Linked DNA regions of Homo sapiens. The protein of the gene in region 2 purifies or fractionates together with the protein of the main gene of each other region. This does not show direct contact. Each region holds a gene or a part of one and is shown on either strand. Other genes may lie near its edges.

Region 1 (2,867 bases), on a different chromosome or scaffold from region 2:
TTTTACAGAAAAAGGTATTGAAGTTTAGAGATTAAATAACTTGCCCAAGATGCTTGTGTGTAGAAGAACCAGGATTCAAATCTATGCTATAATACTCTTAAAGCCAATGTACTTGACCATTATGCTACTTAAGCTCCAGTTTGTAAGAAATATTTTGAATATTTTATGGATAGCAGCTCAAAAATGGAACCAGTGAAGTCTGTTATTTTATCGTATTATTTAAATATATGTTAAAATATTGTCTATATGCTATAAAGAAATGCCATTTATATTTAAGGATATTGACTTTCTGAGTTTTACTCCCCAGGGGGCATAGATATGGACGCATTTCAGGAGCGTGAGGAAGGCCATGCTGGGCCTGATGACAACGAAGAGGTCATGCGAGCACTGCTCATTCACGAGAAAAAGACTTCCTCTGCCATGGCTGGTTCAGTGGGGGCAGCTGCTCCAGTGACCGCTGCCAATGGCAGTGACTCAGAAAGCGAGACCAGTGAGTCAGATGATGATTCTCCACCCCGTCCGGCAGCTGTGGCTGTGCATAAACGAGAAGAGGATGAAGAGGAAGATGACGAGTTTGAAGAAGTAGCAGATGACCCCATTGTCATGGTGGCTGGCCGTCCGTTCTCCTACAGTGAAGTGAGCCAACGGCCAGAGCTAGTGGCCCAGATGACACCAGAAGAAAAGGAAGCATATATAGCAATGGGACAACGCATGTTTGAGGACCTCTTTGAGTGAGCTTTCCCTAATTCTTTCTCCTTTCTCTAATGCTCAGTTCAAAAAGGAATGTCTCATCTTTGAAGAAAAGTATTTAAGTGGCTTTCTGCCCCTCTTGATGTAAGCAACTGTCCATCCTTGTGCAAAGATTGATGGTAGAGAGTTTGACTTTTATGCCAGAAACTTTCCCAGCAAGGTAGGGTGCTGAGAATCCTACCCTTCCTTGCTGTCACTACAGTATTAATATTTTACTGTATTTTCTTTTCTTTTTTTTTTTTTTTTGGAGATGAAGTCTCACTCTTGTACCCCAGGCTGGAGTGCAATGGCGTGATCTCGGCTCACTGCAACCTCTGCCTCCTGGGTTCAAGCGATTCTCCTGCCTCAGCCTCCCGAGTAGCTGGGATTACAGGTGCCTGCCACCATGCCTGGCTAATTTTTGTATTTTTAGTAGAGGCAGGGTTTCACCATGTTAGCCAGGATGATCTCGATCTCCTGACCTCATGATCCACCCGCCTCGGCCTCCCAAAGTGCTGTATTTTCTTATCTGATTTTTTTCTTGCCTTATTAAGACATAATTTTCTCCCTTCTGAAATGAGTGAGGGAAGTTCATAAGGTAAATCCTTCCCATCCATCTGTTTACTACAATAGGTTACAATAATTCACTGATCACATCCATTTTATCTGTTCTAGCCAGGCATTCCAAACAATTTCTTATACTGCTGCCCACCAAAGCAGCTTGCCAACAGTCAAATCACTGATTGGGGGAAAAAATCCTGAAATTTTGCTTAGAATTTGAGCATTTCCTCAAAATTGAGATGGATCAATATGTAAGGGGAGGTGGGAGCGTGTGTGGAAGGGGGAGAGATATACTTGAGTCTTATGATTAATGTCTAAACCAGAATTTGTGTCTTTAGAACTGACCAGACTGGTAGATTTTATTGTATTGCTTAATGTCTTTTGGTTTGGATTTAGGATGATAGAAAACAGAAGTATAATTGGTAAACCCTTAGGAAGAAATTAGAAAAACATGGACGTAAGACAAGAAGTCTCTGTGAAGGGTTGAAGAGTGACAAGCATTGGTAACAGTGCCTTAGAACTGTGTCAGTTAGTCTGATTTGGAAATCCTTTATGTAAAGCTGAGACTGGTCCTGGTTTTGTTCCCTTTGGGTACAGACCTCTTGTCAGTGCTATAAATTGTTTAATGAGGCCATTCCAGCAGAAATCAACAGAATAATTGATTACTCTTCTCTCTCTCTGTCACTCTCCCTCTTTCTAAACATCATTGAAGGCTGTCTCTCTTTTAATTTTTGTCAGACACAGTATTTTAGGGTGCATCCAGTATACCATTGAGCATTGTAACCTCAGGAAACAGTTTATTTTGGGTTCTGATATGTAGCATGGTATTTTCCCTAAGGCAGAACTTTAAAAATAAAGAACTTTCACACAAGGGTCTGTAACAATTGTATATCTTACAATATTTTTCCTTGCATTGTAATTTTTAAGTATTTATCATTTTATAGTACACATGTAAAGAATATATGAGCCTTGTATGGAGTGATGTTTCATTTACCTGGGTTGTGTTAATGACTGAATGTTGACAATAAATCTGTTTTATACTGACTGAAGTTTGTTCATTTTAAGTTCTGTAACATCTTGGGGCATATTAAAATGAATATTCTTCCCATTAAAAAAATGTTAAAGACTTTTTTATTAGTCATATTTCAAATGATAGATGCATATGGGATCTAAACTTTTTGTGCAATAAGATGCCTTTGTACCTTGTATACGTAAAGTATTCAACTTTTACACTTGATCTTAGCCAAAAGACCAAGAAGCAATGCTCTTCAGCTTTTAAACATTGTTTTTTAAACTTTTATAGTTCTAGAAGTTAATTTAAATAAAATGGTAATCAGATGTTAATTTTTAAAATGTAGTTAATTTTTTAAACTATTTTTTGTAAGTGTGTTCATGTATATGTAGAATTCGTGTTATGGGAAAATGTCACAAGTGAATATGGAGGTAAGAATAAAGGTATTCATTGCAGCAGTATTTGAAATAGAATAGAAAGATAGATATACTCACTAAATCTGTATTTAGTCCTAAGTACTCAGGAGGCCAAGGCAGGAAGATTGTTTGAGCCAGGAGTTCAAGGC
Region 2 (6,949 bases):
TCAAAAAAAGTTAATGAGCTACTATTTTTCACCCATCTAATTGATGGTGGTATTGAATATGATAAAAAATGCTTTTCAAAAAAAAGTTTTTATCAATTTTGCAAATTACTTTAAAAGTCCTTTGAAAGTAATTTCAAAGAAATATTCTGAGGTATAGTACAAGAACGTTCACTGTAGCATTATTTTTAATAGAGAAATGAGCAAAAAGCAAAACAGGAAACAAAAAATGAAAGGTTTAATAAATCACAGTAAATTCTTCTTAGAGATAACAATAATATGTAACCATTTTAAAATGTGTTTAAAAAGAACATTTGATCATGTGGGATATTATAATAAAGTATCATGCAACCATTTAAAGACATATTTTAGAAGAATAATGAAATGGGAAAATACTCATAACATTAAAAGAGTAGAAATGAAATTATGGTACCAATGAAAAACTAATTAATAAACATTTATAGATTGCTCAATCATGGAAAAGTGAAGTCACAAATCACCAATACCTTTAGAGTGGTTATTTCTAAGCATTGTTAATTAATTTTCAATATTTTCCAAATGTTCTATAATGAATAAGTTTAAAAATATTTAAATACATTTATCACATATGCAAAACCTAATTTAAAGAAAAAATAGTTCTAATTGTTTAATAACTCAAACCTGTCTTTTCTAAACTACATATAAATTTTTAAATTTACAAAACTACAAAGATTTTAAATAACTTCAGTAACTTGGTATTCATTCCTGGAGTAACCTAGTCTTAATATTTATATATGTTGGATATGTGTCAAAATTTTGTGGCATCATAACCACCAAACTAAAATTTTAAAATATACTTGTTATTGACAAAGTACTAATAAACAAATAGTTGGTGTTCAGGCAATTAATTAATCTTATTAAGTTTACATGATTATATCTGCCTTGTAAGAAACATGACAGCAAAATCGTCCCATCAATAAATATGTTCTTCATATTCAAGAGCATTTTCAAATACCTCTTACTACCTTCAATATTAACCTAAAAAGCAATCATCTGTATATTCAAATGAAAACATACGCTTATATACACCAAACTATTTCATTTTTCTGGAAATGTAAAGTGTACCATGCCCTAAGATCAAAGATCAAAGTTCTTTTGTTAACCGAAATATTTATGTGTATGTTCAACTCGAAAATGCCTGAAATAGCATGTGGTAGAAAGGGGCTGCTAGGTAACCACTCCAGAAACATAAAAGGGAGAAAATTACACAACTGCTCTCTAAATATACTTCTGTGTAGAAGACCTCAGAGATCCAAGAATTACATCAGGTCAAATATTCTCTTGAGAAAAAAAGAAGAATCTTTCCTACCTCCATTCTATCTCATATGTGACGTCATTTAAAAATCCACCAACCAAAAGTATTACTTTCAATTACATCTAGGTAATATTTACTAATGGTATTTGTTTTAGGCAATAAAAATTTCCCTAAATTAACCGAGATTATAAAGCAAGAGGCACGTCTTCATTTGACAGTAGACTGATTCAAACTTAAAGAGTTATAACCAACCAAGAAACCAGTTGTTGTATATATGAACCACAAATGAAGTCTATGGAAAACATTTGCAAGTTTCTTTGCTTAGTAAGAAAGAATTTGCACAACGGGAGAATCATATCAAATCTTATATAACTTCCCCCAATTGTGTTACATAAGATTTAACTATAGTTGACACTACCATTTTAAACTAATCAGTAGCATATTTATAATTACCTTCCCTAAAAAACTATTAATAAAACCAGGAGCACACTTACAATTAAAAAATCAAACACAACTGTATCTTACACACATGCATACAGTACAGTGTTTAAAAGAAAAAAACAGATTTTTTTTATTAATGGTCCACTTTCTTCAAAGAGGCCTCAGGGTAATGGATGTTCTTTCTAGAATTCTTCATCAGAAAAATTTACCAAATAAATGTTATAGCTTACATATCATAGCAAACAAAAATGCTAAGAAAATGAGTTGATTAATTTCAAAAGTAACAATAATCTAGCTGAAGCAGTAATGAACAAGTCACCTAAGAAACTTAAAACATGTAAAATTCAAATGCCCAGAAACATACAAACTGATTAAAATTAAAACTTTATTTACTTAGGATCAAACATTTAAAACCAAAATAATCCTCAGATTGAGATTTCATTTTCGATTATACTGTAATTTCTTCCACTATTCCCGTTCCCCCAATATTCCCAAAACTAAAATTGTTTCTGTTTTGTAAACATTCCACACATCCATAACAGAACAGGTAAAAATAGGGTTAAAAATGTATTTGCAAATATGCAGTTCAAATAAATGCACTTCCCGTGAGAACACCACTAGGTGCTGATCTTTACCACCGTAAATATAAACCTGAATCCAGTAATACTTTAAAACTGAAATTATAATCAAGAACCACAAATGAAAATCATTTTTACAGAAAATTAAGTCCACAATTTTTCAAAAAATCGAAAAAACAGAGAAGAGCTTGAGGTCGGCCCAGGAGTACAACATTAGAGTAATGTTTTTCTTGAAAATTGTGAGAATTTAAGGTTAACACAAAGAAACCCCTCAAGAACGAGGAAAATTAAATCTAGAACCCAAATGGCGTCCAACAAGAACATTAGATCTTGAAAATGAATATTGCGCTTGCGCAGCCACCGCCCCGCCAGCTGCACAACTGCAGCTAGAGCCCGACCCCGCAAGATCACGTGCTCCCATGCAGCGCCGCCCGCAGCTCCGCAACCGCGCAGGCGCAGACACAACTCCCGCAGCCGCCATAATGCGGTCTTGACTCTTCAGAAATACAATAGTAATTTAAGAAAATGTGGTTTTAACAGCCCCTGGGATTCACATATACCTTTTGGGGCGGAAGCTGAGGGAGGGGGAACCAAGTTCCTTCCTACAGAGCCGTCCCGCGCAGCCGTCCCCGACGTTGCCGCCTCAGCTTTTCGCGCGCTTCAGTCGCCGCGCCGCCGCTGCCACCGCCGCCGCCTCCGCAGATTCAAAAACAAACCCGCTTCTCCCTTGCACGCGCCGGGGCCGTTATGCAAATTAATATGGGCGGGGCTCCGGGGGGTCGTGCTATGTACCCCGCCCACTGTGCTATCAGCCAATAAGCTCAAGGACTAGCCATTCCCCATGCAAATTCTGGTTTTTTATTTGAATGAGGGACATTGGCCCCGCCTCCTGCGTGGAAAAGAGAAGGAAGCCCGAGGTGGTGGCGCTGCGTCTCTCAGTTGCAGTGTGAGGTGTGTTTTTTGAGTGGATCTTCCTCAATCAATAAGTAGCACTTTGTGAGCGCCCTCTATGAGGCTTAGAAAAGAAAGAAGGAAGGAGGTAGGTGAGAGTTTAAAGAGCAGAGGGAAAGATTTTCATAAAAGCCAGGAGTATGTTGATTTATTCATCATTTATGTTTTAAATTCACAGAATGTACTTTGAATTGTATTAATAATGAAGGAATGAAAAAAACATACTTTCTTTCAGTTGCTTGGTAACAGAGCAAGCACTTTTTATCATACTCTCTCACCAGAAGTTGTATTCATCCCATTTATTCAATTTCATGCTGGGAGTCGGCCTTTAATGAATTCCACAGGAGGTAGTGGACAAGTCACTGCCTTACTGGTTAAGAGATCTGGGTTCAAGTTCAACTACTGCAGCTTCCTTGCCGGTTCCTCGGAATAAGTGTGTTACTCAGTTTTCTCACCTGTATAATGGCAATCATGACTATAGTTGAACTAGGTTGGAAGCACTAAATGATAGAATAAATGTACATATGTTTTGGCCAGGTGCCGTGGCTCAGGCCTGTAATCCCAGCACTTTGGAAGTCTGAGGGGGGGTGGATCACCTGAGGTCAGGAGATCAAGACCAGCCTGGCCAACATAGTGAAACCCCGTCTCTACTAAAATTACAAAAATTAGCTAGGCATGGTGGTGCGTGCCTGTAATCCCAACTACTCAGGAGGCTGAGGCAGGAGAGTTGCTTGAACTGGGACCTGGGAGGCCGAGATTGCAGTGAGCGAAGATCTCACCACTGCACTCCAGCCTGGGCTACAGAGCAAGACCCCTTATCAAAAAAAAAAAAAAAAAAAAAGAATAAAAGTACATATGTTTTGCAAGGCAAGAATAGCCTGAAAATAATATTAGATGGTACCGTGTGGTTATTGTTTTTTTATGTAACTTCTCATTATATGAATGTATTGGTTCAGTATTTATTTAGCAATCACTGTGTTGTAGATCTGTTAGGTGCCTGTCCTCAAGAAATCTGTACTCTAGTGAAGAAGACAGAAAACTGAACAAGAAATTTTTGTAACTAATAAGAAATTAGAATAGGGTTGTTAATACTTATTTTTATAACTGGAACCATTCAATTTACTTAAAATATAAGGTGGCCTTTAGAAATATCACCTAGGGCCGGGTGCAGTGGCTCACGCCTGTAATCCCAGCACTTTGGGAGGCCGAGGCGGGCAGACCATGAGGTCAGGAGATCGAGACCATCCTGGGTAACATGGTGAAACCCCGCCTCTACTAAAAATACAAAAAAAAAAAAATTAGCTAGTCGTGGTGGCACGCGCCTGTAGTCCTAGCTACTCGGGAGGCTGAAGCAGGAGAATCACTTGAACCCGGGAGGCAGAGGTTGCAGTGAGCCAAGATCACGCCACTGCACTCCAGCCTGGGCAACAGAGTGAGACTCCATCTCGAAGAAAAAAAAAAGAAATATCACCTAATCCAGACCTAGAGAATTAGAAAAGCCTTCCTAGAAGAGGTCATCTCTATCATGATAAATGATTTAATTAATTTTTTGCCTAAAAGTTGGACCTCATTGGGACAGCAATGAGGAATCATTTAAAAGGTTTTAAGTCGGGATATAACACAATTAAATTTGCATTGTTTAATCGCTAAATGTTGTAACATCATTAGCACAGTCCTTAGCATATACTCAATAAATTATAGATGCTCAATTATAATTTATTTATTATAATTTTCATAGTACATCAGTGCTCAATTATAAGTAGATGCTCAGAAAATTAGAAATATTGATATTAAATGTTACACTCCATAATAATAAGAGAAATTGGATTGGAATACTAGAGCCCATTATGTTTCTCTTTTTATGTCTTCTGTAAGCATATAAAAAAGAATCATTTTTATAATAGTCTATTCTTTTTTTTTTTTTTGAGACAGAGTCTTGCTCTGTTGCCCAGGCTACAATGCAGTGGCGTGATCTCAGCTCACTGCAACCACCACATCCCGGGTTCAAGCAATTCTCCTGCCTCAGCCTCCTGAGTAGCTGAAATTACAGGCGTCCACCACCGCGCCCAGCTAATTTTTGTGTTTTTAGTAGAGACAGGATTTCACCATCTTGGCCAGGCTGGTCTCAAACTCCTGACCTCATGATCCACCCGCCTCGGCCTCCCAAAGTGCTGGGATTAAAGGCGTGAGCCACCACATCTGGCCTTCTTTCTTTTTTTTTTTTTTTTTTTAAGACAGTCTTGCCCTGTTGCCCAGGCTGGAGTGCAGTAGCACGATCTCAGCTCACTGCAACCTCTGCCTCCCAGGTTCAGCGATTTTCCTGCCTCAGCTTCCTGAGTAGCTGGGACTACAGGCACACTCTACCACGGCCGGCTAATTTTTTGTATTTTCAGTAGAGATGGGGTTTTGCTATATTGGCCAGGCTGGTCTCGAACTCCTGGCCTCAGGTAATCTGCCCACGTCAGCCTCCCAAAGTGCTGGGATTACAGGCATGAGCCACCATGCTTGGCCTATGATAGTCTATTCTTGATTATCCATGCTAATAGCAAATGGAAAAATAATTCAGCATAACCACAGATTTATCAGTTTTCTTAGATATGCTCATATTCTAGACTTGCCTCCTGAAGACTCCAACTAGACAATTTTATTGGATTCGAATCTCCTCAGATATCCTCAACCACAGTTACAGTCTCTTCAGCCATGCAAACCCGCTGGTTGACCTAATCAACTATTCATTGATTTGTTCAATGAATACAATATTTATAATGTCTCACAAACTATTCTGGGCACTGGGGATGCCCAAAGGAAATGACACTGTTTCTCATGGGGAAAGAGTTGTAAATACAGATAAACATTATGAGATCATTAATATTTTGGTGGTATGTCTTAAGCATAAAAAAATTCTAAAATGAGAGAACCTAAATCTTCCTCATACTATATGGGAAAACTTCACAGAGGAAGTGATACTTGACCTGACTTATGATGTAGAACTTTGTACCTAGGCTGTCAGACTAGGTACAAAAGAAAGTATTCAAGTTAGAAAATAACAGAAAATACAAAAACAATGAAGAATGAAAAAAGCTGAACTTAAGACTTCTAGGTAGGACCACATTTAAAATATTTATCAATCCCTATATCACTGACCAATCAGAATGGAAGCAGGCTTGAAGACTTCCCTCCCCCCACCCTATTTTGTCAGGTGTTAATTCTTTAGTTGTAGGATCTTGAAGAGGTCCAGAGGCTCTTCAGCTGGGGACTGAGCCTGACTTGGTGGTATGAAGGGTGTGGTAGGATGGGGCAGCTACTTACCAGTTAGTACAAAAGGATTTTCATATTTTATCTACCATTATGTTTTTATTGGTATATTTAGGCTAAAATGATACAGGCTAAATATAATTTTCCTAGGAAAAAGTGCTAGAGTAAAGTAGGATCATAGAACCTGTCTCACAAAAAAAGAAAAAAAAAAAAGACCTAAACTAAAATAATAAATATAAACCAATACATTTCAGTTGTAGCAACTGAACAAAGAAAACAGAACTTTTTAAAAACAGCATAGGCCGGGCGCGGTGGCTCACACCTGTAATCCCAGCACTTTGGGAGGCCGAGGTAGGTGAACCACCTGAGGTCAGGAGTTCGAGACCAGCCTGACCAACATGTTGAAACCCCATATCTACTAAAAATATAAAAT

What was found. Proteins that work in one complex are often made in the same cells at the same time.
Region 1: the proteins of ATF7IP (region 2) and GTF2E1 purify together in Homo sapiens (affinity purification with western blotting; 2 studies listed by BioGRID, with this or other methods). This does not show direct contact.

The regions. Positions count from the first base shown.
Region 1 is NC_000003.12:120,780,736-120,783,602, forward strand, and holds the end of GTF2E1 (general transcription factor IIE subunit 1), read left to right. Parts: intron 1-307; coding exon 308-735; 3' UTR 736-2,334; downstream 2,335-2,867.
Region 2 is NC_000012.12:14,361,749-14,368,697, reverse strand, and holds the start of ATF7IP (activating transcription factor 7-interacting protein 1), read right to left. Parts: upstream 3,017-6,949; 5' UTR 2,871-3,016; exon of another isoform or gene 1,508-2,870; intron 1-1,507. UniProt on the Homo sapiens protein: Recruiter that couples transcriptional factors to general transcription apparatus and thereby modulates transcription regulation and chromatin formation. Can both act as an activator or a repressor depending on the context.